Linked DNA regions of Homo sapiens: region 2 is linked to region 1. The links come from fine-mapping of genetic effects on gene expression. Tissue or cell type: atrial appendage. Region 1 holds a variant in brackets; the other region holds the start of a gene. All regions are shown on one strand. Distances are between the middles of the regions.

Region 1 (2,765 bases):
AAGACAAAATTTAAGAGCTTGAAGACTAGTCTTTTGAATTAACCCAGTCAGACAAAAATAAAGATTTTTTTAAAAATGAACAAAACCTTTGAGAAATAGGGATTATGATTTATAGGCATTCCTGAAATAAGAGAAGAAAAAAGTAATCAATCTGGAACACATATGTGGGGGAATCATTCAGGAAAATTTTCCTAACCTTGCTAGAGAGACCAAAGAAATCTGCATCCACATAAAAGAAATTCAGAGAACACCTACGAGGCACTATACAAGATTAATATCACCAAGGCATATACTCATGAGACTATCCAAGGTCAACACTAAAGAAAAAAATCTTAAAGCCAGCTAAATAAATGGGCCAAATTACCTATAAGGGAAACCCTATTGGACTAACAGCAGATATATCAGCAGAAATCTTACAAGCCAGAAAAGACTGGGAGCCTATTTTTAGTCTTCCAAAGCAAAACATAAGCCAGCTAAGAATTTTACATTCTACCAAACTAAGCTTGATAAACAAAGGAGAAATAGTCTTTCCAGATAAGCAAATGCTAAGAGAATTTGTCACCACTATACCAGTCCTATAAGAAATAATCAAAGAAGTTCTAAAGATGGAAACAAAAGGATGACACTTGCTACCATAAGAGTACACATAAATATGAAGTGTATAGGTCCTATAAAGCAAGCACAATTGAGAATACAAAGCAACCTTGAACAAGTTAACCTTGAACATAAACTGCCTAATGCTCCAGTTAAAGTATAGGTTGGCAAACTGGATGAAAAAACAAGACCATCTACTGCCTACGAGAAACCCACCTAATGTGTAAAGACACCCAGAAGCTCAAAGTAAAAGAACACGAAAAGATATCTCATCAAATAAAAAACAAAAGGGAACACAGGTTACTATTCTTATATCAGATAAAGCAGATTTTAAATCAAAAACAGTAAAAAAAAAAAGAAAGGCATTATATAATGATAAAATGTTTAATTCCAAAAGGTGGCTTAACTATCATATATATATATATATGCATATAACACCAGAGCATTCATATTTATAAAACAAATATTACTAGAACTAAGAAAGTAGATAGCAGCCATAAAGTAATAGTAGGGAACTTCAGTACTCTGCTGACAGCATGGACAGATCATTAAGGGAGAAAATTAACAAACTTTGGACGTAAGTGGAGCTCTTGACTGAATGGAGCTAATAGACATACACGGAACATACCACTCAACAAAGGCAGAATATACATTTTTCTCATCTGCTTATGTAACATTCTTTAAAATTGACCATATAATTTGCCA[T/A]AAAGCAAGTCCCAATAAATTCAAAAAAATCAAAATCATATCAAATGTCTTCTTAGACCACAGTGGAATAAAATTAGAGATCAATAGCAAGAGGAACTCTCAAAACCACACAAAGATACGGATACCTCCCAATGTGGGATCCAGCCACATACTGCGGGTGCGTTTGACCTGACAACAGATCTATACCTCTCTGAAATGGAGCTCCCAGAGGGAGGGGCAGGGCCAGGTTGCCATCTTTGCGGTTCCACAGTCTTCACTGGTGATACCTCCAGGTGCTGGAAAATTCGAGGCAACTAGGGGCTGAAATGGGCCCCTAGCATACCACAGCAGCCTTATGGAAAAGTGACCAGACTGTTATGTGGGTGCACATTCCCAAATCTCCTCACTGAGAAGGTCCTCCAGGCCTGGGTCTCCAGCCACCTTCTACCAGAGATATTGAGCCACTAACAACAGAGCAACCCCCTGGACAGAGCTTCCAGGGGCAACTGAAAGCCTCTCTGTTACTGCCTCTGCAGTGGAAGGAACTGCCCTTGCTACCATCAGACTAATGAAGAAGCAAAGACCCTAAATGCTTTATCCACACCTCCAGAAAGCTGAAGTTGACCCAAGGAGAGAAGGCCAATCCATCTCCCACAGGTCCCACACAGTTCACACTGCTTGTCACCAGATAGAGAACCCCTGGCTTGGGCCCAAACCACAGGTCACCTATCCTGGGTTGATTGCACTGAGCAATTGCTGACCTGCATCTGTCTTGGGCGGAGCCCACAGGAGACAAGCAAAATGTCCTTGGCCACAACCAATATTAAGGTCCCTTTCTCTGCACCACCAAGCTGGAGAAGGAATAACAACACTGAGATCTCCCCAGAGCTGCAGTAGGCAGCTCCAGAGTGCCAAGCCACAATCTACAGCCAGTACTTAAGAGGGAGAGAAACCCACACACTTTCAGAGCATTGAGAGAAAACATAGCTGTAACTTTGAGGAAACAAAGGGGAGCCACACAACCAAGCAAGAATCTACCAACTAACCAATAAGCTTAAGTGCTACCTACTGAATCATACCCCAAAGCTTTAACAATAAAAATACCTCACTAACATTCTCCCCTCTGAAACTAGAGACAAAAAGTAAGTTTCAAATAGAGACCCAGCACTAAGCCTTGCCCCAGTGAAAACATCTAGAAAATAAATCTATTGACTGTACTCAATCTACACTGCAGTTAAAGGAATACCCACATGCAGAGATGAGAAAGAACTATAGTAACTTAAATGGCCACAGTGTCATATGTCCTTTGAACAACAGCACCAGTTCTCCAATGAGAGTTCTTAACCAGGCCGAACTGGCTGGAATGGCAGAAATAGAATTAAGAATATGAATAGGAATGAAGATAATCAAGATTCAGGAGGATGACAAAACCAAATCCAAGGAAAACAAGAATCACAGTAAAACAATACAGGAGTTGAGGATGAAAT
Region 2 (2,765 bases), 420 kb after region 1:
ATCTCCATATGTTAAAATGCCAGGCCCACCATTTACAGGTTATTTAACTTTGGAAAGTTTTTCAAACTCTCCATGTCTGTGCCTCAGTTTCTCACCTATAAACCTCATAAAGTCACTTCAATGATGAAATAATTATAATCCACATAAAACCCCTTGAACAGTACCTGACACAGAGTGAATAGTAAATCATAACACTTTGTTCACTGGGCAGAAAAAAAATGCTGCTAGCCCCCTGGATAACATTCTCTTCCTCTCTAGAATGGTGGTAGTATACTAGGTCCTATTGCACATATACACATTAGGAAGATACTTTTTACTAAAGTCACTTTGAATGAGAGTATTCTGGATTTAAGTGGTGCTGAAGTATATTGCATAGCAAAATCTGAGGGTAAGTAGGCATTATGATCAAAATTTCAAGTAGTAATAAATGTAAGTTGTAAACACATTTAAATCTCATTATGTCAGTTAAGGCATCTTTCAGGACTTGCAGCTCCCTTAATAACTAGATATTAAAAAGTCAATCAAACTCAGTGTTTCCTAGGGCACATATAAGGGCAGGAGAAATTCCCTTGCATAAATGAAAAACAACAAATGTGAATGCCAAAATGCAAAGCATTTGTGGAATCTTTAGGTTTTTCTTGACCATCCACCTTTCTATACAGCAATTCAATCATTTAGACAAATTTCCTTCAACAAATGATAGAAAAGAATACGAGGCTTTGAGTAAGATAAACAAGTCCATATATTAGACAGAGTCACTAGAAAGAGACCCCTTAGTAATCTTCCTTAACTGCAATTATCAGATGGGTTTTGCAAAGAATGCAAATTTATCTGTGAAAATTGGTGTATTCCTAGACTAATACTCATTATTTTAGTCTGGGAATCTGGAATAATAATACTTATGCTGGTAACTACCTTTGCTAAACTTAAGAACCATAAAAAGACACTTTCATATAACATGTGTGACTTTTTTTCTCTAGCAAGTTTTTTGCATTTTCATGTCTTTGTGAATTTTTAAGCCCATGTGCTTGGAAACTCTGGCTTCATCCCTGACATTCTACATTTCTGCTCTTCACAGACTCCTTTACCTGCTGGGCAGCCTTGTAGCTATCTCCGTGGCAAGGCAGGGCCTCTCCTGGCATGTAAACCTGCTAAGTGAATCCGCCCCTAAGGGCGTGTCAGTACCATTTCCTGGAGCAATGTCACAGGGTGGCTCCATTTTCCATTTGAGCTCAAATATTTTGCTGCTTCCTCTGTAGCTGCCAGACCTGCTCTTGCTGCTGCTCAGGTAGCTTTCTTCTCTTCCCGGCACCACTATTGGCAGAGGTTTTGATAAGCGGTTTCCACACGTGTGTCGTGTGTCTGTCTGCCTGCCTGACTGCCTGCTTGCCTGTCTTTTTTTTCCATTATATTTCTCTGTTTGTTCCTTAGGTAGAACATCTGGGAGGTCCCTTGCTGACCACTGGAAGAAGATGAGCTCGAGCTATTGGAGTGAGACGAGCAGCAGCAGCTGTGGAACCCAGCAGCTCCCAGAGGTGCTGCAGTGCCAGCCCCAGCATTACCACTGCTACCATCAGTCAAGCCAAGCCCAGCAGCCTCCAGAAAAAAATGTAGTGTATGAGCGAGTGAGGACCTACAGTGGGCCCATGAACAAGGTGGTGCAGGCCTTGGACCCCTTCAACTCACGGGAAGTGCTCTCCCCTCTCAAAACCACCTCCTCCTACCAAAATTTGGTTTGGAGCGACCATTCTCAGGTACAACAAAGAAAGCTATGCCAGACTAGTGGAGAAAGGCAATCTTCAACCTGATTTCTCTTCCTTTCTGCTTCTTTGCCTCTATTCCACAGGATATCTTTTGGTGGATTGCAGTTATATATGCCTTGGATAGTCACCCAAATTCATCTCTTGGCTGTTATTTCACTTACTAGTGTCTGTGGTTGTTTGTTTCCGGGTTTCACTGATTTTCATAATCTAACCATAGTATAGGAAGGCTCATTTTCTGTTTGATCTGACTGAAAGATCTGATCCAAGGAATCCCTTTGCCCCTACTGCAAAGCAGTTCTCAACTTGAGTACAGTAGATTTTTATTAGAACAAGTTCCTACTGATTAATTTCATATCAGAAGCAAACAGGTTTTTTTTGGTATCAAATATGGTGATACAGGTACTGTGGCATGTCTGAGTGATAAGCAATTATTTGTGCTCAGCAAATAGTATAGCTGCTCCAGGATAAGTGAGAGGTGCAGATGTCTGAATTGTCATATGTGTTTCATCTTCCAAGAATGACACACTTTTTATCGTACAGCCTAGGTGAATAATTTATGGAATACTTGTAGAAAGAGTACTGGAAGAGTTGATATAGGATTGAGGAAGGCAAGATGTAAGCAATTGTTACATGAAAGCTACAAAAGATGGAACTCTAAGACATCCCATAAAATGAAATACGTTTGTTTCTTAAGAGTTATTCTTAGCACCAATACCTGTGTTAATAACCTTCCCAATAAATACAAGGTAACCCTGCAAGACTGTATAAAATTAACAGCTTTATGTGTATTTTATCCTCTGACTCCTTTTACATTAAATTTGCATGTTTTAAGCTTTCTGGAAAATTCTGTCCAAACTGAAATTATGTTTTTAAGATACAAAAATCTCAAAAAGCAGTCATTGGGATATGATGCTATGTTACATTATTATTACCAATCAGGAGTAATACATATTATTTTTCCAAAACCCACAAATTTGAGTAGAATATAAAGTAACATTTCTC

Which allele goes with the higher level. Alleles are on the strand shown, and positions count from the first base shown. SD is a standard deviation of normalised expression in the study named.
In carriers of allele T in region 1, the expression in atrial appendage of the gene that starts at base 1,262 in region 2 tends to be higher than with A alone (moderate effect, 0.46 SD a copy in GTEx).

The links. PIP is the estimated chance that this variant, and not a neighbour inherited with it, causes the effect.
Region 2: POF1B starts here. The variant in region 1 is fine-mapped to the expression of POF1B in atrial appendage (GTEx, PIP above 0.99).

The regions. Positions count from the first base shown.
Region 1 is chrX:85,796,357-85,799,121 of GRCh38, reverse strand. No RefSeq gene overlaps it. Among named protein-coding and RNA genes, the nearest start is that of MIR1321, 38 kb to the left of the region's middle. The variant T/A (reference allele first, on the strand shown) is at 1,300.
Region 2 is chrX:85,378,162-85,380,926 of GRCh38, reverse strand. POF1B (POF1B actin binding protein) reads left to right here and starts at 1,262. Exons shown (of 17, transcript NM_024921.4): 1 at 1,262-1,288; 2 at 1,432-1,754. The coding sequence starts at 1,473.